Linked DNA regions of Homo sapiens: all the other regions are linked to region 3. A link means that fine-mapping ties the variant in region 3 to the plasma level of a protein whose gene starts in the linked region. Region 3 holds a variant in brackets. A gene starts in each other region. All regions are shown on their forward strands. Region 1 holds the start of GGH (gamma-glutamyl hydrolase). Region 2 holds the start of GALNT7 (polypeptide N-acetylgalactosaminyltransferase 7). Region 3 has its middle 4.2 kb from the start of LILRB5.

What was found. PIP is the chance, under the fine-mapping model, that this variant and not a neighbour inherited with it causes the effect. Protein levels are from antibody-based Olink assays in UK Biobank. Linkage for the fine-mapping came from a reference panel and not from the study's own genotypes, which makes the PIPs less certain.
Region 1: it holds the start of GGH, and the variant in region 3 is fine-mapped to the plasma level of the GGH protein (UK Biobank, PIP above 0.99).
Region 2: GALNT7 starts here. The variant in region 3 is fine-mapped to the plasma level of the GALNT7 protein (UK Biobank, PIP above 0.99).

What each region holds. Positions count from the first base shown.
Region 1 is chr8:63,035,432-63,043,619 of GRCh38, forward strand. It overlaps GGH (gamma-glutamyl hydrolase), which reads right to left and starts at 3,375. Exons shown (of 9, transcript NM_003878.3): 1 at 3,229-3,375; 2 at 225-339. The coding sequence starts at 3,337. RefSeq lists a silencer at 3,409-3,768.
Region 2 is chr4:173,161,329-173,169,499 of GRCh38, forward strand. It overlaps GALNT7 (polypeptide N-acetylgalactosaminyltransferase 7), which reads left to right and starts at 7,483. Exons shown (of 12, transcript NM_017423.3): 1 at 7,483-7,633. The coding sequence starts at 7,508. GALNT7-DT (GALNT7 divergent transcript) reads right to left here. Exons shown (of 7, transcript NR_134242.1): 1 at 7,536-8,171; 2 at 6,634-6,785; 3 at 5,317-5,462; 4 at 4,796-4,971; 5 at 3,650-3,804; 6 at 2,965-3,025. RefSeq lists enhancers at 4,594-4,673, 6,752-6,851 and silencers at 7,162-7,211, 7,282-7,401, 7,632-8,171.
Region 3 is chr19:54,257,379-54,265,529 of GRCh38, forward strand. It overlaps the pseudogene RNU6-1307P. Among named protein-coding and RNA genes, the nearest start is that of LILRB5, 4.2 kb to the left of the region's middle. The variant A/G (reference allele first, on the strand shown) is at 2,743.

The DNA of each region.
Region 1 (8,188 bases), not on the chromosome of region 3:
AGTAGCTGGGATTACAGGAGTGCACTACTGCACCCAGCTAATTTTTGTATTTTTAGTAGAGACAGGGCTTCACCAGGTTGGCCTGGCTGGTCTCGAACTCCTGACCTCAGTAGTCCACCCGCCTTGGCCTCCCAAAGTGCTAGAATTACAGGCATGAGGCACCGCACCCGTACGCAGCAATTTTTTATACAGAGTAAAAAAAAAAAAAAAACACTGAATCATACCTTACTGGTACAACTCTCGCACCTGCAGACTCCAAGTACTTTACATAGGACGCAGCAATATAGTATCTTCCATAGTTTTTCATGACTTTATTACGGCATTTTTGCATTAATATTCCTAATAACAAAAAAAAGTTTAGTTTCAAGCAAATTCCTTTTCTTCTTGCTCAGAAACTGAAATATATCACAGCAAAAATATCATATTTTATTATTTCAATCCACAGAATTAAATAGGAAGTCTCTCCTCCAAGTCCACCCATAGCCTATGGGAAAGCAGCAGGGGAGGCTGATCTTACTTTCAAGTAGATCTATCTCTCACCTCATTAGGGAGGCCAAATAAGCCCCCAAAGAAGGCTTACAATAGCACTTGCAGCCTTCACACAACTGTAGACCTAGAATCCATCTAAAGAATATAGATCCTTAAATTTACAAGGCTGTCACTCCTTTCCCACACATACTCACAGACACACTGATTCCCTGACAACGAAGCAAAGGAGTGAAAACATCTTCCATCCACACCTCTCCAACATTACCTTAGCCCAAGCTATCAATATCTACCCTCTCCCCACCACACTATCATAATAGACTCTTAGAAGGTCTTGTTATATCTTTTCTTAAGAAACCCCCCCAAGCTCCAAGCAGCTCCCCATGTAGAAGCAAATCGGATCATATCACCATTCCTATTCCTACAGTCATTCAATATATACTGTTGAATCATACCTCATGCCAGGCAACAAACTAGCTGCTGGGGACACATGACTATGAGTGAACCAAACAAAAGCCCCTGCCCTGTGTGCATTAATTCGAGGGTGTAGCAGGGAGGGGAAAGAGGACAAACAATAAACAAGACAAAAAGGCATAATATATAGAGTGATGGCTGGTCGTAAGCACTAAGGAGAGAAAGACGGTGGGGAAGGAGAGCCCATCTATGTAGGAAAGGACAGTCTCTTCAACACGGTGGCCAGGCAAGTCCTCCCTGAGAAGGTAAAACATGACATTTGAGCCAGGACTTCAGAGAGGTGACAGAGTAAACCACATTCATATATCTGGGAAAAGAGCAATCCAGGACAAAGGAATAGCAAGTGCAAAGGCCAGGAGTCAGATTTGTGCCTGTCACGTTGCAAGGAATCCATATTATTAGAGCCAGGTGAGTGAAAGCAGAAAGCAATAGGAAAGGACATCAGGTAGCGATAGATCAGCAAGCAGGTGTCACCACTTTGTTTAACTACCTCAGTGGGTCCCTAAACTTTAATAAACTCTGTAAGACCCGTATGCTCTGCCCCACCCATCTCTCTGGCCTCCTTTTACCAGTGAAACCCAGCCCCAGCAGAGTATAGCAACCAGTATACATCAAAACACGTCTGTCGGGTGAGTACCTGTGCCTACTCCTATTCAGCACTTCAGCATTTGGAACACTTTCAGTGTCTCTGTAGGCCACCTGATAGGAAGAGCTGTTGTCTGTATTACTCACTTTTGTATTCCCAGCTTCTTACAATTGGCATTCATCAGGTATTCAGATTAACATGTCAAACGCCAAAATTTGTTCAGTAAAACTTTTTCTCCTTACTGGTAGGTAAGATCATCTTCACTAAGGAATAACAAAGTTTGGCTAGGGAACGAAGAACTAGGAGTGTCATAGGAAATGGAGTGGTACAGGGTACATGGGGTGAGGTACCACAAAGGAGACATGGGGCATCATGGGAGCACAAGGGTACCAGAAAGAGAAGTACATCAGAGTGAGTTCCACCAACATCTCCCCTTCCCCTGGGCCCACGCATATTCACTTTTCCCATCCCTGGGAAAAGAGCTCAAGCTGTTCTCCCTGTCCCTCAAAATATGACCAAAATTCCACCAATAATTTAAGGCCATCTCACAACTTTTGTGGCTTGTCATCTTTCAATCCTTTGCACTTCCCAGAGCAAGATTGTGTACATAGTCGGTACTCAGTTAACGATGTTGTGCTGATCTCAGTGACCAAAAGCAAAGTCCCTTTTTTAAATATTTGACGCAGGGCTACCCCTGATTCTAGGAAAGGGGAAGAATCCCCTCTGCTTTTTTTTCTCTTCTCTGGACACACAATATGCAACCTGTTACATTAATTACAGCTTGAGTTAATTCGTGGAGAATCAAATCACCATGTTAAACAGCTATGAAATAAGTTCCAAATATTAGTAAGCAACCCATTTGAAAACTGGGCACTACCTATATGAAAAAACATTCATCTACTTTCTGTTTAGTTACAGAATACAGTGATAATATTCATAGAAAAAAATAGTATGAAAGGCATAATCCTACAGCCAAAATAAAACTAATCTTAATGTCCACACACAAATTTCTTTGGGCAAATTTTAACCCCAGGATGATTTCTCCTAGGTAGCTTTCCTTGGGCCTGTCTCAAATGTGTGTTTTGGTAACACAGACTGATTTTACTACCTCTTTAAAACACAAATATGTTGGAAACGAAAAATTGTGGGCTGCATTTTAACACCAAATAGAACTCACATTAGGATATCAGCCACTGTTGTCCTCTGCTACTGAACATGACAAAATCCAAGTTATACCTTAATTTCTTGATTTTCTATTACAATGCACTGGTATTTTAAATACGCCATCAATACATTTTGATGAATGCAATGCATGTACAGAATTTGTAGATGTAAATGAGTAAAACTTCCCAACTATGTGCGAAAAGGAAATGTTTTATTTTAGTAGAAATTCCTAGCTGTGTACAAAAAAAGAAAATCCGCAGGATTCTTCATGGTGCACCCTCCTCCCTCCCACCTTTAAGAGTCATATGAGTCTAAAGGAATGAACGAGGTACCTCAACCAGGTACATTTCAGTACGACCTAAATGGTGCCCAGCCCGGGTTCCTCCTTGCACCAAAAGCGAAGCACATCTGGGGGTTTTTCCCGGCGGGACGCGCCAGCTGGAGCGCGGCGGCGGGAGGCGCCCAGCGCCAACACCCAGCTCCTCCCCGTCTGCTGCGGCCCCGCACAGCCTCCTTACCGATGATGGGCTTCTTGGCGGTGTCGCCGTGGGGTCTAGACAGCTCGAGGCTCGCCGCCCCGCAGAGTAGCAGGCCCAGCACGCACAGCAGGCAGCCCGGACTGGCCATGGCGCTCGCCGCCTCCCGCCGCCTTTCAAAAGCTCTGCGGGCGGGCGGGGGCTGCGGCAGGGACACCTCGCGGCAGCGCACTCGCGTGAGACTCGGGTGGGCGGTGCTCCGCAGCGTGGGCCTATGGGAAATGCAGTCCCGGCGCGCGCTAGGCGGCCGTGGGGCGGCGGTGGGAGGCTCTGGGAGTGCAGCCGGCGCTGCGCGCCCGCCCCATTGCTCTGTCCCCGGTCCGCGACCGCGACCGCGACCCCGACCCCCACGGGCCGCCTAAGCGGAGACTCTGGAAACGCCTGGGGCGGGTACCGGGTGGTCTCCGCGTCCTTCCCTTTCAACTGTTACGTCGATGTGGACTTCAGTCACCCGTACAAAGCTGGGCTGGCCAACCCAGGTCCTCGAGAGGGGAGGTTGGGTGTCCCCGGCCGAGTTTGGTAACCAGGCAGCGGGGAGGCTGGCAGGGGATTCTAGAAGGCGCCTGAGAACTGCGCGCCAACCGCACCGCCCCCTTGAAGGTCGGGGCCCTATCTCCGGGAATGGTGACAACGTTCGCTGTACGGACAGCCTGTGCCCCTGAATGTGAATGTCCACACTTGCTATTTGGGGGGTCGCGGCATCTGTAGGAAGTGAAGACGGGACGGCGATAGGAACACACGCACAGGCGCATCACTAGGGTCAGAACTGGGCCAACTCCGGGCGTCTACTTTGAAGCGGGCACGCCCAGGCCACGCCTGCAAACGGCGTCAGCTTCCTCTGATCAACCGCGGTCAGCGCCATCCACCGACCACCACTAAGCCTATCCACCGGGGCAGAAAAGATGACTGGTTCCTATTCGTTAAAACTGTTGATTGTTCCTAAATACATGGATATATAGCTTGTACTCAGTGAAAGTTTCCATCTATAAGGGCCAACTGAAATTCAGCATAAAACAAGAATATTTGAAAACCTGCTACATCAATGCTCAGTATTAAGGGTGAAAACGTAAATTGGACAGTCTTTTTCACAAGAGGTTTAAATTCAGTAAGGAAAAAAGGCAGAAAGCGTGACTCGTAGAGACAACAGGAACAATTTTAGCATGTTGCAAGAAGAGTAAATGCAGTGAATAGTCTGGTTTAACAAGAAAATAACGCTTCTGTAGAAGGGTGTGGTGAGAGGTAAGCAACAAAGGATGTGATGAAAGACATGAAAGGGCCGAGCTGGTTTTGAGCATGATTAAATAGACAAGTAGCCTTGTAAATATGAACTTGTGGTGCCAGAATAATTGACTATCCACATAGGAAAAATTTTTTACCCGGCGTTACACACAAAAATAAACTCGAGGTGAAGTGCATATGTAAATACGAAAGCAAAATATTATACTTTGATAAGAAAATATATAAATATATCTTCCTAACTTAGGCTGTTGGAAGAGTTTCATAAAACATTAAAAATAAAAATGTTAATTAAAAATTGACTATATAAGAAAATTAAAGTTAAAGCACAAACTTGGAAAATATAGTTATAAAATATAAAGTATTTCTAAAATATGCGAAGAAATAATAAGAAAAATGACACAATAGAAAAATGGAAAAAGAATGTGAAAAGCAAACCAAACTTTCTGTAGTCATCAGAAAAATGCAAGATAATATGTCACATCCATTAGACTGTGTAGAAAAACAGCCTGTTTCCTGGCAAGAGTGACACCATCTTGAAGCAAAACTATCCTGGGGACTGATGTTTGACCCACAGCATACCGAGGTGTTCTGCAGCAAAGGTCTTTAAACAATGCTCATAACATATATAACCCCTCATAAAGATGCTTATCTAACGTCCCCAGTGATCACAATAGTCTAAGAGCTAACTAGTTGCACTTGTCTTTACCCTAGAGGCTTGCTAAATAAAGCATACTTTCTGGAGGGCAAGTGCAGGGGTCGCTTCTGTTTGTCTCTACTAAGTATTTCTTTCTGAGAAATTCGATTGGTCAGCCTCTTTGGTCTCCCAGCTTCCTCCATCTTTGGAAGCAGGTTTCTGTAAATTGACAAAAATGTAAGCCTTTGATAATAAGTCAAGGATGTAGTAAAATGACAGTTCTCTGCATTTCTTGTGGAATTGTAATTATTATAACTATTTTTGAGAAAAATTAAGCAATATCTGGTAAAGGTGAAGATCTAAATGTTCTGTAACCCAGTACATTCTGGATATAAGTGTGTACCTAGATTAATGCGTGCTCATGTGAACAAAAAAAATATGTGTAAGTATGCTCTTTGGAGCATCTTTTTGTAATAGTAAAATATTAAATGTAAATGACCAATGTCATAAAGTTTTTCCCATGTGTTTTCTTCTAGTAATTTTACAGTTTCAGGTCTCATATTTAACTGCTTAATTCACTTTAGTTGATTTTTGTTCATGGTGAGAGATAAGGGTCTAATTTCCAGATTTTCCAACACTGTTTATTGAAGAAGATGCCCTTTCCCCATTGTGTGTTCTTGGCACCTTTGTCAAAAATCAATTGACAGTATATGTATTGGTTTATTTTTGGGCCTTCTATCCTAGTGCATTGGTCAATGCCCGTAATTTTATGCCAGTACCATGCTAGTTTGATTAAATTACTATAATTATAATATGTCTTGAAATCAGAGTATGATGGCTTCAACTTTGATTTTTTTTCTCAAGATTGTTTTAGGTATGTGGGGTCTTTTGTGGTTTCATACAAATTTAAGGATTTTTTTACATTTATGTGAAAAAAGTGACACTGGAATTTTGTAGAGATTACAATGAATCTGTATATTGCCGTAGGTCAGTCATATAGACATGTTCCCAATTTTAATTCTTCCAATCCATGAACATGAGATATCTTTCCATTTGCTTGTATTTTCTTATTTACTTGTATTTTTATGTGTTTTATAGTTTTCAGTGTACAGGCCTTTTACCTGCTCATTAAATTTACACCTAAGTATTTAATTTTTTGTTACTATTTTAAAGGGGATGGTCTTGTTAATTTCATTTTAATTTGTTATTACTATATAAAAATGCTGCTGACTTTTATATGTTGATTTTGTATTCTGTAACTTTACTGTTAATTTATCAGTTCTAATAGTTTTTTGGTGGATTCATATATAAGATCATGTCATAGAAAATAGGGATATTTTCACTTCTTCATTTCCTATTAGGCTTCAAATTTTTCCTCTTGCCTAATTGCTTTAGCTGGGACTTACGGTACTATATTGAAAAGAAGTGGTGAGAGTAGGCATACTTGTCTTGTCACTGATCTTAGAGGAAAAGCTTTCAGTGTTTTACTGTTGAGAATGATATTAGCTAAGGGTTTGTCATATGTAGCCTTTATTGTGTTGAGGTACATTCCCTCTATACCTATACCCAATTTGTTAAGAGTTTTTTTTGTTGTTGTTTTTGTTTTTTTTTTTTTGAGATGGAGTCTTGCTCAGTTTCCCAGGCTGGAGTGCAGTGGCGTGATCTCAGCTTACTGCAAGCTCCACCTCCCAGGTTCACGCCATTCTCCTGCCTCAGCCTCCAGAGTAGCTGGGACTACAGGCGCCCACCACTACACCAGGCTAATTTTTTTGTATTTTTAGTAGACAGGGTTTCACTGTGTTAGCCAGGATGGTCTCAATCTCCTGACCTCGCCATCTGCCCGTCTTGGCCTCCCAAAGTGCTGGGACTACAGGTGTGAGCCACCGCGCCTGGCCTTGTTAAGAGTTTTATTATAAAAGGATGTTGGGATTTTTCAAATGTTTTTTCTGCATGTATTGAAATCATTATATGATTTTTATCCTTGATTAATGTGGTATATCACATATTGATTTGTGTGTGTATATATGTCTATTATAGTAGATATAGGCAATGTATATTGTAATGTCTCCTCTTTCTTTTCTAATCTTGTTTGAGTAGGCTCTTGTTTTCCTAGTTAGTCTAGCTATGGGTTTGTCAACTTTATCTTTTCAAAAAACCAACTTAGTTTTGTTGATATTTTCTATTGTTTTTCTAGTCTCTATTTCATTTATTTCTGTGCTGATTTTTGTTATTTCCCCTCTTCTGCTATCATTGGGCTTAGTTTATACTTATTTTTCTAGTTTCTTGAGTGGTAATGTTAGATTATTTGTAACCTTTCTTTTTTTATATAGGTGTTCATTGCTATGAATTTCCCTCTTAGGATTGCTTTTGCTGTCTCCCATAAGTTTTGATACATTGTCTTACCATTTTCTTTTGTCTCATGGTAATTTTTTATTTTCTATTTGCTTTCTTCTTTAACCTATTGGTTGTTTAGGAGCATGTTGTTTCATTTCCACACATTTGTGTATTTTCCAAGATATCTCCTGTTACTGATTTCTGGTTTCATTCCATTGTGATCTCAAAAGATACTTGATATGATTTCAATTCTCTTAAATTTGTTAAGATTTGTTTTGTGCATTAACATATGGGCTATCCTGGAGAATGTTCTATGTGCACTTAAGAAGGATGTGTATTTTGTTGCTATTGGATACAGTGTTCTGTATATTTCTGTTTGGTCTATTTACTCTAAAGTGTAATGCAAGTCCATAGTTTCTTTATGGATTTTCTCTCTAGATGATCTGTCCATTACTGAAAATGGAATATGGAGAGCCCTACTGTAATATTATTAAATTATATTTTTTCCTTTAGATCATTTAGTAATTGCTTTATGTATTTAGGTGCTCTGATTTTAGGTGGGTGTATATTTACAATAGTTATGTCTTTGTGGTGATTTAACTTCTTTGTTATTATATAATAGCCTTCTTTTTCTCTTTTTATAGTATTTAACTTAAATCTATTTTGTCTGATATAAGTGTAGCTACCTCTGCTCTTTTCGTTTCTGTTTGCATGGAATATCTTTTCCATCCCTTC
Region 2 (8,171 bases), not on the chromosome of region 3:
TCAGTGCATTTCATACCCTAGTTTTAAGAAATTTGAGCATTTTAAAGGAAATTAGAAATTTGAGTCTAGCCAAATCTCTTAATCTGCATATAGCAGGGCAGGTTCTCTAGCCCTTTCACTGACAGAGTTCCTTTCCATTCCACCCATTATTTAGAAGTTATGCTCTAAGAGATTATCAATAGTAACAGAGAGAGGCCAGTTTGTCTTATAGGTACTGGGTTCCCACATGAAAGATATGAGGTTGTGGGCAATGCATTTTCCCTTCAGTGAGCCAACAGGCAGTTTCAAATAGCTATCAGTTTATTATCTAGGAATTACAGTACTCTTTTTGGTCAGGTAAAATGTAGAATACTGTACCCTTCTTCCCCAACACCCAAATAAAGGCAAAACCATCTACCTATAAAATGCTTCTGCAAATCATTTAGATATTATCATATTTTAAGAGCTATTAAAGAATGCTTCTTAAATAAGAAGACTACCGAATTATAGAAGTCCAAAAACAGTACCAAATTATGAAGAGGTGGTGTTCCACACTGTGAAATCTGAGGGCTTTTAAATTAGTATTTTTACTTATGCAACTCCTTTTTCCCCACGCTTAACAGTGAACACAGGAAATATATTTTCACTTGTTCAGTCTCTTAATACTGAGCATCTCTTCTGTGCCAAGCATGGTCAACATCTAGAGACACAATGCCAAATTCGAACATGGTCCTTGCCCTTAAGGAACTTGGTCTAGGCCAGGCGCGGTGGCTCATGCCTGTAATCCCAGCACTTTGGGAGGCCAAGGCGGGCGGATCATGAGTTCAAGAGATTGAGACCATCCTGGCCAACACGGTGAAACACCATCTCCACTGAAAATACAAAAATTAGATGGGTGGTGGCGCATGCCTATAGTCCCAGCTACTCGGGAGGCTGAGGCAGGAGAATCGCTTGAACCCGGGAGGTAGAGGTTGCAGTGAGCTGAGATGGGGCCACTGCACTCCAGCCTGGCAACAGAGCAAGACTACGTCTAAAAAAAAAAAAGAAAAGAAAAGAAAAGAAAAGAAAAGAAAAGAAACTTGGTCTATATGCTCTGAGGGAGAACTTACAGGGTGCTTTGAGAGCATGAAGGAGGGTCTTCTAACCTAGCAGTGGGATCGGGGACTGAAGACAATTAGAGGTTTCTGAAAGAACTGATGTATAAATTGAAATCTGAAGGATTATCAGGGAGTTCATGGGAGAGGGGTTGGTGTAAGAACCACAGAGTGTTCTAAGCGAGAGAATAACACACACAAGGTCTAGAAGTGAGAGGGAAGTTAGCCTATTTCAGAAATGGAGAGAAAATCAACATGGCTATAGTTTAAGTTGCAAAAGAGGGGATAACTGACCAGCCATGGGGCTGCAGAGGTAAGCAGAGGCAAGCTCACAAAGGCTTTGTAATAAATGGAGGAATTTGGGCTTAAATATAAGAGCAATGGGAAGCTGTTGAAGAGGTTTTAAACAAGAGTGGTAAGAGACAAAATCCGTTTCAATCACCTCTTAAATAAATGGTTAGATCAGAAGAGCACTTCTGAATTATGGGAGTCCAAAAACAGTACCAAATTATGAAGAGGTAGTGTTCTACGATGTGAAATCTGAGGGCTTTTACATAAATATTTTTGCTTTCCAAACACTGTAGGAGACCCTTAACCTCATTAAATGGAAGCCCTTGACAACAGTCCTTTATTCCAGATGAGCACAACTCAGGAATTATCCATCTCAAGCTTATGATAGAAATAGTACCCCATGTCAGAAAAAAAGTACAAAGGCAGGATTTTACCTCATAGTATTCCACATGAAAGCACAAATTAGTCTCAATCACACATCGGCATCATAGGAAAATCTCAGAATTTCAGTATTGGAAAGAATGTTAAAGATCATTTGGTCCAACACCTTCATTTTACAGATGAAGGCAGTATACAGATTATTTCTTATACAAGACTGTGGATTCTGCCTTGGGCTCTCTCTCCCTCAGATCTTTCATGAAGGGGGGAAGTCAGCTTGGCATGTCATGAGTAGCCCTGTGGAGAAGCCCAGGTGACAAGGAACTGAAGCCTCCCACCGCCTGCCAGTGAGGAACTGAGGCCTGCCTGCTGGCCATGTGGGTGAACTTGACAGCAAATTCTCCAGGCCCAGTTGGTTATGATAGTGGTCCCAGCTGATAGTTTGGTAAGAACCTCATGAGAGACCCTGAGCCAGACCACCTTGTTAAGCCACTCTTAGATTCCTGACTTCAGGAACTGTGTGAAGTAAATGTTTGTTGTTTGAAAGTGCTAAACTTTGGAGTCATTTGTTAAGCAGTAAGAGGTAACTAATGAACAGTACACAAAATTAATAAATTCTTAACAAACTTACACTATGCTTCCCTTGATATCTAAATAGTAGTTATTTTCTAAACAATAAAATGTATCTTCCTTTAAAGATACTACCAATTGTGCTCTTCTTCTTTGAAAAGAGGTGATTAAATGGCTTATAGAATAGGTGATAGGATATTTAGTCATTTAGAGGTCACTGACTCTAATTTAACCTGAGTTCTTGGCAACCACACATAGATAATACTGAAATTTGTTTGCAAATAATTCCCTATGGCTACATATTCCCATTTTAATGTAGCTGTTTTTTTTAAATCTCCGTACATACAAAAATATGAACTTAAATTAAAATTACCCTTTCTTCTTAGTTCTAAGCAGCCTTAGTAGGATGCTGAGTAAGGGGGAAACAACAGCCTATCAATTGATGATGATGACCATATGTAAAATAATCACTTTTCTAATTTAATAAAACCTCCAAAGTTTTGTCCTTGGAAGAAAAACCTCCCAGTGAGGAGGAATAGCAATTGAAGTAAACCTGGCCCCTCTTCTAAGTTTTGTCTGCCTTTTATATTTTCAATCCCATTATTCATTCAGCATTCCATCAAGAAATACTCACTGAGCCCTTTCCACATACCAGACACGGATAACAATAACGAACTAGATAGACAAGGCTCCACCTTCATACACATTTTTATCTGGGTATAGGAAAAAGAAATTAAGCAATTACAATATAGTGGTAATCATTAGGGAAGAAAAGTAGAGGGTGCAGTGGAAGTACCTAGCAGGATACCTACCCTAGTACATTGGTGGGAAGAGATATAGGGGTGTGGAGTGGGACATGTGAGAGAGTCTAGAAAAAGCTTTTTTGTAACTGACATCTAAGCGTAATGTTAAGATGTCAGAAGGTATTTCAGGCAAAAAGAACTCCCCGTACAAAGGCCTGAAGGTAAGTGAGTTACATTTAGAAACTTAGAAGTTCAGCTTGGCTGCAGCATAGCATTGGGGTAGTGTAGCCCCAAAATGGATACAATTCCCTCTGCTGGGCTTCCCTGTAACAGAGTTGACATGGTGGAGAAATTAAAAAATAACAAAGCTTTAGGCTCTGACCTCTTGCACATTATGCTGCCTGAAAACATTTATGTTCCAGATGCAGAAGGCTAATCAGTCTGGCAAGAATTCTGAGGTTGGAAAAACCTGCTTTGAATCCCAGCTTGAGACCAGTAATACCCACAACAGGTTGTGTAGAGGTTAGGTGAAATAATAAATGTGAAGCATCTTACACACACTAGGTGCTCAAATAATTCTCTCCCTTCAGTTACCTTGCTTCTGAGCCCCCAGCTGGACTCTGAGCTGAGGACACCATGTCACCATCCACCACACATGACCCCATGACTTGGCAGAGGACGATGCTTTTCTTGGCCATCTCTATGTCCATCTCATTCAGTTCTAGTCTCTACCCTCTTCTTTAGAGGAACTGCAGCATTCATAAAACAAGAATTATAGCCACACGCACCTGAGACTTGTTCCATTACACTAATTGTACTTTATATTTGTATATGTACTTGATCTCAATTATTCCTTTTGAGAACATCATAAGGTTGAGTATTGTAATCACTATTTGGCAGATAAAAGCCCTAGGTTCAGAGAGGTACGTGATTTATCTTGACTGAAGCTTTGAATGTAGCTCCTCATTTTCTAAACGAGTTCTGTCAACCCTACAAAGGCTGCCTCCCAGCAAATACTGCAATGGGCATATGTTTTAAGGTATATTTGCACTTTTTTTAAACTTTTAAGTTCAGGGGTACATGTGCAGGTTTGGTACATAGGTAAACTTGTGTTATGGGGGTTTGTACAGATTATTTCATCACCCAGGTATTAAGCCTAGTACCCACATTAGTTATTTTTCCTGATCCTCTCCCTCCTCCCACCCTCCACCCTCCAATAGGCCCCAGTGTGTGTTGTTCCCCTCTATGTGTCCATGTGTTCTCATCATTTAGCTCCCACTTATAAGTGAGAACATGCAATATTTCGTTTTCTGTTCCTGTGTTAGTTTACTTGCAGTTTCTTTTAAAAGTTATTAAGACTCAGAGAAACATAAACTTTTACAACTATATACCTATTCATCAATATACAACTGTATAACTATATACTCTTTCACACATATTTTAAGTTCTCTGTGTAAAACTAAAGTTGGGGGGTGGTAGTGGTGGCAGGATGTTCTCAGAATACTAGGGCCTTCAAAGGACCATCCTCAATACTTTGATGATAGGTATCACTTTCCATTTGCATACTTGCCCAGCTATGCTCATAACAGTAAAAATAAAGCTTCCTACCTTCTTAAGAATAAAAAACTGTCTCCCCTGTGAAAATAACACAAGTGAAAGACTTAATTATTCAGGTGGACTTCAGCTGCTGATTTCAAATGGAATTATTCTCTTATGATCACAGGATGCCTTGTAAGTTACCTGTTTCAAGCCCAGTCTCTGCCTAGGGAACTGTCTCCTATGAAAAGGAGTCCGGGTGGACCATGGTGGCTCATGCCTGTAATACCAGCATCTTGGGAGGCCAAAAAGGGAGGATCGCTGGAGGCCAGGAGTTTGAGACCAGCCTTGACAACAGGACCAGATAATAGACCCCGTCTCTACAAAAAATAAAAAAAAAATTAGCTGGGCATGATGACTCACACATGTGGTCCTAGCTACTCGGGAGGTTGAGGTGGGAAGATCACTTGAGCCCAGGAGTTCCAGGCTGCAGTGAGCTATGGATGTGCCACTGCACTCCAGCCTGGGTGACAGAGCAAGACCTCAACTCAAAAAAAAAATAAATAAAAAAGAAAAGGAGTCCACCTCACTTCTGAACAGTTCAAGTTGAGTCCATAAATGAGCCTATTTCTGTCTTCCAAAGATATCCATATAAGACTTTTCCCAACCACCCCCCGCAACCTTGCTTCCTTTCAGTGTTTCTCCAAAGGTGGTGCCCAGATTACCTGGATCAAAATCACCAGGGTACTGATTAACAGGAGATTCCTGGGTCCCAACGCTGACCTGAATCATCACCAAGAAATGGTGCATTCGCTTTTCATATCACATTACCCAGCAGATTCATACTTCGTGAATTACACACTCTAGATCTCTGTCACACAAAAAAAATGGTCTTAGGCAAAATCTCTCATCTTCTACTTAAAACAACTGGTTTTAACCTAAGGGGCTGATATAAATGCTAAGTCAAGCAGTGATTTGTGTTTAACACTTGACAGTCCCTCTTCCAGGTACTCTATATAGTGGACTTTTATACAATATGATGTACAGTCCTTCAGCCAACCAATAATACACCTAACTACAATCCATTCTACATTTCCGGAACCATGCTGTTCATGAGGATATCACTTCAGATATTTTGTGGAAATTTTGAAATTATGGCATCTACAGAACTCCCTGATATACTAGCTATTGTAAGCCAAGCCAAAAAGCACATGAAGGTAGTTTGGTATAATTCTTTATCTATCTTGATAATTGAAATTGTTTCACTGTAAAACTTTACATAACTGAGCTTTGTTTTAAAGCAAAAAACTTGCAGATGTGAGACAGTACGAGAAAAAAGAATCAGCTGTTACCATCTTAAAACTTAGGATAGCCTAGGTGTGGTGGCTCACAGCTGTAATCCTAGCACTTTGGGAGTACGAGGCAGATTGCCTGAGCTCAGGAGTTCGAGACCAGCCTGGGCAACACCGTGAAACCTCGTCTCTACTAAAATACAAAAAAAAAAAAAATTAGCTGGGCGTGGCGGTGTGCACTTGTAGTCCCAGCTACGGGGGAGGCTGAGGCAGGAGAATTGCTTGAACCCGAGAGGTGGAGGTTGAGGTGAGCCAAGATCGCACCACTGCACTCTACTCCAGCCTGGGTGACAGAGTGAGAGACTCCGTCTCAAAAAAAAAAAAAAAAAAAAAAAAAAAAAAAAAAAAAAAAGAAAAGAAAAAAAACCCCAAAAAACTTAGGATAAAATCTTAAAACGTTTTGTTCGACTTAAATTTAAATTAGCAGTTTAGGATATAGTACACTGATAATGTAATTACATACATTCTGCTATAAAGGCATAGACATCTTTATTGGGAGATATGGGCAGAAAAATTATTTCCTCAGGGTGGGGCATTTGGCTAAACACTTGCCAATATCCTTTACTGTGTAATTTAGGTAACACAGGCAGAAAAGGCGTTTGAAAAGCAGAAATCAAGTGGCAAATATCAGATCTGAGGGACGCAATGAGGGTGGAGTTGAAATCCGTGGTCCTTGGATTTGAAACTTACCAGCCCGTGAACAAGGTTGGTATTGCTTTTGGCATAAGACGACAGCCTTTCTTTTCATTAGCTCAGGAGGAATACTGGCTTTCCAAGTGAGCTCCTCCAATCCAGTGATATTTGCACATCTCACCTGGGCCTTTCGGTTACAAATTCACCACCTTAAGGAGCCGTGTGAAAAAGCAAGAACAATCAATAAGAAGGAAAAAAAAAAACCCTTCAGCTATAAATCAGCCACGTGGAGCTGCTGCAGCAGCAGCGGTAGTCCCACTTCCTGGTTGGCTTCCTGAAAGCCTCTCGACAAGGGGCTCAGGGAAGTGGGTCTAAGGGAGAGGTGCAGACGAGAGCGACTCCAGGTCCAACGGAGGGGGCGGCGGGCCACGGGATCCCGGAGGGCACAGGCGTTAAGGACGGAGTTATTGTCCATAATTACAATAAAAGTTTGGGGATCTGAAAGCTTTAAGGAGCTGAGCTGCAGGGCAAAGGCTAAGAACCGGACTCGGGAAAAGTGCAAGTTAGTTACAAGGTAGCAGGGACTGTGAAGGGGGCTCGCGTGGAGAGCAGGGGACTGCGGATCTGGAAGGGGGCAGGTAGAGAGGAAGGCAGCCTGGCAGAGCGAGGCACACGGGTCAGTCGGAGCTCTGCGGTGGCCGCCAGAGGGGAGGGGGCCACGGGGAGGAGCGGAGGGAAGAGCCCGGGGAAAGGTGTAGCCGAGGGGAGTTCCGGATCTGGAGCTGGAAAGGGCAGGCAGCGGAGAGGGCGGCAGCCGTAGCGGTAGGGGTGGGGGAAAGAGGGGGAGGAGAGCCGGAGGAGGGGGAAGGAGGGAGGGGAGAGCGGTGGCGGCGGCTGCGCCGGGCTGTGAGTCTCTCGCCGCCGGAGGAAGATGAGGCTGAAGATTGGGTTCATCTTACGCAGTTTGCTGGTGGTGGGAAGCTTCCTGGGGCTAGTGGTCCTCTGGTCTTCCCTGACCCCGCGGCCGGACGACCCAAGCCCGCTGAGCAGGATGAGGGTGAGTGACCCGCCCGGCCCCCTCCGGCGGCAGCGACCGGCAACTTGTTTTGTTTGCCCGCGTGTGGAGGGAGCAGGGGCGGCGGGGTCGCGGCACGGCGTGGGCACCGCAGCTCCGCAGGTGGTGCTGGCGCAGCGCGGGCCGAGGGGGTGCCGAGCCCCGCGCACTCCGACCTCCCTGGCCGCCGCCGGCCCGCCCCCTCGCCGCCCCTTCCTCCGCTCTTCCCCGCCCCGGGCTCCGTCGCCGACACCCGCGCTGCCGCGGCAGCGGCTCGGGCGGCCGCTCTCCGCGCCGGGACTGCGGGCGGAGCGGGCGGAGAGCCGGGTCCGGGGGGCTGCGGCCGCCCGGCGTCCCGCTCTGGGGGGCCGGGACCGCAGCGCTCACGGCCCGGGGACGCGGGGTTGGTCCAGGCTGCGGCCTGTGGCGCGTGCAGGCCTGAAGGAGGCGAGATGCCGATGCCGCCACCGCTGGTCCGGTGGACCAGGCCCCTTGGTCCAGCCTCCCCTCCCGCAGCCGCCCGTCTGGGGGTGTTCGCAGC
Region 3 (8,151 bases):
GGGCTGGGGTGAGCTCCAGGCTCTCTGCAGACATTTCAGACAGAAATGGGGTCTCCCTGAGCCCTAGCCGCTGTCGGCCTGACCTATACTCAGCTCACCAAGGGCTAGGGCAGAGCAACAAAACCCCTCCGCTGGGAATGAACCTCTAAGTCGTTCCTGCCTCCTCAGTGCCCCTTTGTCCTTGGCCGTCCCTCTGTGCCTCCAACCATGTTCAAGGTTTTCAGAACAATTACTCAGGTTTGTCATCTGATTCATGGGGTGGAGTGGGGAGCTGAATTTTCTTCCTAATTCCACCGATTATGTGACCTTGGACAGCAAAGTGGCTTGCTTGAGCCTTTCTCTTTTGGAACTTGTGGTCATGACCTCAGCTTCTCAGAGTGGATGTGGGGCTCAGTGGTGCCTGGGACATGGGAGGGGGCTTGGCCATGGTGAATTTCCAGACCAGATTAAGACAGGAGTGGTTGGGGTGTGAGAGGATCCTGGCATTGAGCTCCGTAGTAGAGGAGGATGATTGATGCCCCAACTCAAGAGCCCACATCTGCTCCAAATACCAAGAAATGCTCCTTATGTTTGAAGTTCCCGGCACGGTGGCCCACCCCTGTAATCTGAGCACCTAGGGAGGCTGAGGATGGAGGATCCCTTGAGCTCAGAAGTTCAAGACCAGCTTGGGGAACATAGTGAGACCCCGTCTCTGCATATAACAAAGAAGAAATAATCAGGTATGTTTGTGCACGACTGCAGTCCCAACTATTTGGGACACTGAGGTGGGAAGATTGCTTGAGCCTGGGTGGTCCAGGCTGTAGTGAGGTATGATCATAGCACTGCACTCCAGCCTGGGTGAGAGAGCACGACCCTGTCTCAAAACATACATATATATATATATATATATATATATATATACACACACACACACATACACACATCTGAAATATGTAGATTATACATCCGAAATATGTAGATTATGAAAGTTTTGTGCAGAAAAAGAAATGAAAAGTTCTTTAATTTGAGAAGGTTGCACATCAAAGAACAAACTTGAAAGCTGACAGCCTGCTTGTGTCTAAGACTGTCCCAGGGTCATTAGGGAGGAAATTTCCACTTCTGTGTGGGACAGAAGAGGAACCCCAGGTCCTCATGGAAAGGGAGGGGGTAGGGGCTCCAGATGAAGATGAAAAGCTGTGGCCCGGCCCGGCGCGGTGGCTCACGCCTATAATCCCAGCACTTTGGGAGGCTGAGATGGGCAGATCACGAGGTCAGGAGATCGAGACCATCCTGGCTAACACGGTGAAAACCCGTCTCTACTTAAAAAAAAAAAAATAGAAAAAATTAAGCGGGCGTGGTGGCGGGCGCCTGTAGTCCCGGCTACTTGGGAGGCTGAGGCAGGAAAATGGTGTGAACCTGGGAGGCAGAGCTTGCAGTGAGCTGAGATCGCGCCACTGCACTCTAGCCTGGGGGACAGAGTGAGACTCCGTCTCAAAAAAAGAAAAAAAAAAAAGGAAAAGAAAAGCTGTGGTTCACCCTTGCTCGTGCTTGTGGACAGGAGCTGGGATATCTCTGCCCACTGACTGAAGTCCATGATCAGCATGGGGCCACCTCTCCCGTTTTTGTGTTTAACAGATTCCGCCGCCGTGCGTGGTGCCTCACGCCTGTAATCCCAGCACTTTGGGAGGCTGAGGCGGGCGGATCACCTGAGGTCGGGAGTTTGAGACCAGCCTGACCAACATGGAGAAACCCCGTTTCTACTAAAAATACAAAAAAATTAGCTGGGCGTGGTGGTGCATGCCTGTAATCCCAGCTACTTAGGAGGCTGAGGCAGGAGAATTGCTTGAACCCGGGAGGCGGAGGTTGTGGTGAGACGAGATCAAGCCATTGCACTCCAGCCTGGGTGACAAGAGTGAAACTCCATCTCAAAATAATAATAATAATAATAATAAATAAATAAATAAATAAAATCCTTGAAGTCCACCCGGCGTTCTATTGCACTGCAGCTGACCTGGCACTCAAGCCACAAGATACTGTCCTTCCTACTCATCCCTCCCCTTTCTTAAGGCAAAGGAGCCTCATGCCATGACCACTGCCACAACAGGCTTACAGGGAGAACTGCCAGTGTTCTCTTAAGCCCTAAGGGATCTTCAGTCAGCTTGTGGTGAAGGCTTCCTGGCCTGCTATTCATCCGTCATGACACTGGGCTCTGCCCAGGCCCAGGGCAGGTCCAGAAATGATCTCTAAGAGCAAAGTCCTTGAATTGAGGACCTGAGAGCCTACTTGGCACTCTATCCCCTGTTGTTGAGCTGGTACCTAAGGTGCAATACAAAGTCCCTTTTACTTTTTCTTCCACTTTTCTCACCCCACAGTCAACATGGCTGGGAAGGTGCTGAGTCTCACTTGAAGCCAGCAAGTCTCAGAGTCTCACCTAAGGCCCACGACATAGTACCTGTATATTGCTGCTGGTTATTCAGGGCCTGAGAGCTCTTCAGTTAGCAAGTGATGAATTCTGCCAGGACTAAATCCTTCCCCACAAGGCAGCAATTTCCCTTCTGGCCTAGGGTATGTGGAAAAATGTTGTCCAGGAGCTAGCATCTGGGATGGGGACCTCAGGACTCTGCCTGTTGCCCTATCTTACTGTGGCTGAGTGGGTATCCAAGATAAAAGACAAAGTCCTCTTTATTCTTCCCTCTCCTCTCTTCAATCAGAAGGAAGGAATCACTTTTGTTGCTACAAGTTGTGCTGCCTTGGGTAGTGGGA[A/G]GGATGAAACAAGTACACCCTTAGCTACGTTTGCTGATTTCTCTAAATTCACTGGCTCCAAACTCAGCACAGCACTAGGATTTTCCCAGGAATCACAGTACTTGTGGCCTAGACTCTTTCAAGCTTGTTTAAGACCCCAGACCAGGCGCAGTCACTCACACCTGTAATCTCAGCACTTTGGGAGGCTGAGGCGGGCAGATCATGAGGTCAGGAGTTTGAGACCAGCCTGGCCAATATGGCCAAATCCCATCTCTACTAAAAATACAAAAATTAACTGGGCATGGTGGCACGTGCCTGTAGTCCCAGCTACTTGGGAGGCTGAGGCAGTAGAATCGCTTGAATCTGGGAGGCAGGGGTTGCAGTGAGCCGAGATTGCACCACTGCACTCCAGCCTGGGATGACAGAGCGAGACTCCATCTAAAACCAAAACAAAACAAAAAAACAAACCCAGAGCACTTTAGCCTGAGGTCTCAGGTGGGACTTGCTGAATCTCAAGTTCCAACTGATTTTCTGGGCAGTTCCCCTTTGGGTAGAGCTCATCAAATGCTTTCTCCATGAACGGGCATCAGTTGCAATCAGCCCAGTGTGGCTTTCCAGTGTGACAGGGCAGCATTGAGTTCAGTCCTGCCTTCTCCCTTCCCCAAGCACACAGTCGCTGCTTGGGTGACTCCAGCCTGGGTGACAGAGCGAGACTCTGTCTCAAAAAAAAAAAAAAAAGAATGCTGAAAATATACCCTAATATCTTTAATATCTTCTGACTTTTAGGGTTATGCTGAAAGGTTCACTGTTAGCCTGATGAGGTACGTCTTTTGGATGACTGGCCTATTCTCTCTAGCTGCCATGAATAATTTTCTTTCACGTTGATCTTGGAGAAGTTGATGAGTATGTTGTTTGTGGATGGTTTTGTTGTATAGTATCTCACTGGGGTGTTCTGAGTTTCCTAAATGTGAATGTTGGCTCTCTAGTGCGGTTGGGGAAATTTTTATTGATAATATTCTCAAATATGTTTCTCAAGTTGCTTGCTTCCTTTCTTACTCAGGGATGCCAATGGGTCATAGGTTTTGTCTCTTTCCATAATCCCATAATTCTCAGAGGTTTTGTTCATTCTTTTAAATTCTATTTTTTTTATTTTTGTCTGACTGCGTTGATTCACAGAAGCAGTCTTTTTTAATTTTGTTTTTATTTTTGTTTTCTGAGATGGAGTTTCGCTCTTGTTGCCCAGGCTGGAGTGCAATGGCACAATCTTGACTCACTGCAACCTCCACCTCATGGGTTCAAGCAATTCTCCTGCCTCAGCCTCCCTAGTAACTGGGATTACAGGCATGCACCACCACGTCCGGCAAATTTTGTATTTTTAGTAGAGATGGGGTTTCACCATGTTGGTCAGGTTGGTCTCGAACTCCTGACCTCAGTTGATCCGCCCGCCTCAGCTTCCCGAAGTGCTGGGATTACAGGCGTGAGTCACCACGCCTGGCCATAGAAGCAGTCTTTGAGCTCTGAGATTTTCTTCTCACCTTGGTCTATTTTGCCGTTACTACTTTTTATTATATTATGCAATTTTTGTAATGAGTTTTTCAGCTCTATAAAATCAGTTTCTTTCTTTCTTAAAATGTCTATTTCATCTTCCACCTCTGGTGTCATTTTACTGGGTTCCTTATATCCCTTGGATTGGGTTTCAACTTTCTTCTGAACCTCAGTGATCTTAGTTTGGCATCCAGATTCTGAATTCTATGTCTGCCATTTTAGCCATTTCATTAAAAATCACAGGATGGCCACGTAATAAATGAAAGTAGCACTGCACCTCTATCACCCCATCCTTCAGTCAGGATCAGCTTGGAATAAAGAGGGACTTCTCCTTGCTGGAAAAAGCTGAGAAAAAGACCTAGCAGCTTCCATCAACACTTTGGACACCTGTAGATCTCACCATTGGAGATTCCCTTTCACAGACACTAAGCACAGCTGACGGAGCTACCCAGATTCCACACAGCTGCACTCACCCAGGAGAAAAGACTGACACTGTGCCCCACTGTCCACGGCCATCACGGCTCTGGCACTATGCCATTGTGGAATGGGATCTACTTCTGGATCTCTGGGGGACACGTAGCCGCAGCATCCTTTCACTGCTGAGGGATTGTCACTGCTGAGCCAGCCTTGCCTGGTGGCCTGCCATCCCCAGGCTGAGCTGTTGCTCTACACTACCCTGTCGTGCCAAGCTGCCTAGAGCCACTCGATCCACCTTTCCCAGTGGCAGATGCATCCTGACCCTCAGGGACCGAGCTGAAGTGGAAACGGTGCCTTGGGTGTTCACAAGAGTGATGGCCTGTGCCTGCGCTAGTGTGACACGCTGTGTATTAGGGTTCTCTAGAGGGACACAACTAATGGCGTATATATGTGTGTGTGTGTGTGTGTAAAATCGTATCTGGTGTATATATATGTGTGTATATATACACATGTCAAAAATATATATGTATATGTGTGTGTATATATGTGTGTGTATATATGTGTGTGTATATGTGTGTGTATATGTGTGTGTATATATGTGTGTGCATATATGTTTGTGTGTATATATATGTGTGTGTATATGTGTGTGTATATATGTGTGTGTATATATGTTTGTGTGTATATATATGTGTGTGTATATATATGTTTGTTTATATATATGTGTGTATATATATGTGTGTATATATATAAAATCATATCTGGGGTATATATATGTGTGTATATATACACATATCAAAAAATATATATGTATATATGTGTGTATATATATGTGTATGTATATATGTGTGTGTATATATGTGTGTATATATATGTGTGTGTATATATGTTTGTGTGTATATATATGTGTATGTATATATGTGTATGTATATATGTGTGTGTATATATGTGTGTGTATATATATGTGTGTGTATATATATGTTTGTGTGTATATATGTGTGTATATATATGTTTCTGTGTATATATATGTGTGTATATATATGTTTGTGTGTATATATATATAATCGTATCTGGTGTATATATATGTACACATATCAAAAAATATATGTGTGTGTACATATATGTGTGTATATATATGTGTGTGTATATATATGTGTGTACATATATGTTTGTGTGTATATATGTGTGTGTATATGTGTGTATATATATACCCTACATATATATACCATACATATATATGTATATACACCATATCTATATGGGTGTTTATTAAGTATTAACACACTATTATACAAAAATTAGCCTGGTGTGTGTGTGTGTGTATACATATATATATATAAAATCATATATGTGTGTATATATATGCATGTGTGTATATATATGTGTGTGTATATATATGTGTGTATATATACACATACATATATATGTATATACACCATATATATATGTGTGTGTGTATATATATATATATACGAGTGTTTATTAAGTATTAACTCACACTATTATACAAAAATTAGCCCAGTGTGGTGGTGCACGCCTGTAGTCCCAGCTACTCAGGAGGCTGAGGCAGGAGAATCAGTTGAACCCGGCAGACGGAGGTTGCAGTGAGCCGAGATTGCGCCACTGCACTCCAGCCTGGTGACGGAGTGAGACTCCATCTCAAAAATTGGACTCTAGCCTGGGCAACAAGAGCAAAACTCTGCCTGTCTCAAAAAAAAAAAAAAAAAAAAAAAAGACATGATCCAGGCAACATCGATGGGGCATCACCAGGGTCTGTCCTGTCTGTTGCAGTCCACACTTTGCCCTGCTCATAGCCCCATGAACTTCATGTTCATGTCTTTTCACACTATAACTTCTTCCAGGTCTTTGCTGGACACATTAAAAAAATATATATATATATAAAATGCTTCATGAAATTTGTTAATATCCTTGTGCAGCTGCCATGCTGATCTTCTCTGTATCATTCCGATTTTGGTATATGTGCTGCCAAAGCAACAACACACTGGACACATTTATCTACAAATGAGGCAAACAAAGCATATGGGTGTGAATGGGGAGAAGTACAGTGTTCTCTGTTGTAATTGACCCCGAGGTCATCCTTTATATTTACCAGCTTTGCTGTCTATCACCCTCTCTAGGTTCTGCTTACCTTCTGCCAGAGTTCGCATGAGAAACTCTACTTGTCTCAACTATCGGCCCAATGAAATAAACATAAATTTCAACCTTGAGGCATCTGAGCACCTGATTATTGTGCCTGTTTCAGGCTTTCTTGTGGGAGTTGCCCATTGTGTTAGTTTCTTGGAGGCTGATATAACAAATTATCACAAAGTATTGAATAAAAAGAAGATAAACTTATTCTCTCAGAGTTCTGCAGGCCAGAAATAAAAAATCAAAATGTTCATATAATTTCTTCTTTCTAGAGGCTCTGAAGAAGAAACTTCTGTGCTTTTTCCTTCTTTCTTTCTTTCTTTTTTTTTTTTTTAGATGGAATCTCGCTCTGTCTCCCAGGCTGGACTGCAGTAGCGCGATCTCGGCTCACTGCAAGCTCCGCCTCCCGGGTTCATGCCATTCTCCTGCCTCAGCCTCCCCAGTAGCTGGGACTACAGGTGCCCGCCACCACACCCGGATAATTTTTTTGTATTTTTAGTAGAGACGGGGTTTCACCATGTTAGCCAGGATGGTCTCGATCTCCTGACCTCATGATCTGCCCGCCTCGGCCTCCCAAAGTGCTGGGATTACAGGCATGAGCCACCACGCCCGGCCACTTTTGTGCCTTTTTCTTAGACTTTGGTCCTTGCTGGCATTTCTTGGCATTCCTTGGTTTACAGACTTCTCATTCTAATCTCTGCCTCCATCTTCACATGGCATCCTATTCTTCTCTGTGTGTCTTCTTCATGTCTTATAAAGATGTGAGCAATATTGGATTTAGATCCTGCCCGAAGCCAGCATGACCACATCTTAACTAATTATACCTGCAAAGATCCTATTTCCAAATAAGTTCATATTCACAGCTACGGGAGGTTAGGATGTCAACATACCTTTTTGGAGACACAGTGCAAACCCCAACCCCAGTCATGGTTACCTCCAGCTATGGAGAATTCATCACTGCCACAGTGAATTATCTAAGCTGCCCAACCACCCTCTCTTCACCAAATCCTCCTCCTCATCGTTAAAGAAAATTACCCAGGCCAGTATGATATCTTTCTCCTTACCTGCTGATGTACTGTAATGAGGAAACCCAAGGAAAACCAGCTACATCATCATTTTAGGTACAGAGTAATTTTTGTGTTGTTCCCTGGTAGTGGTTTCTTACCAGGCAGATCTTCTAACCCAGGGTCACCTAAAAGTGCAGTCACAGGATGTGCACATCTCCCAAGTGTGTCATCTGTAAAGTTAGTGATAGATGCTGTTCATTAAACTCTCACTTTACTCCCAAGCCCATGCATTCTACCTGTCAAAAGACATACCATG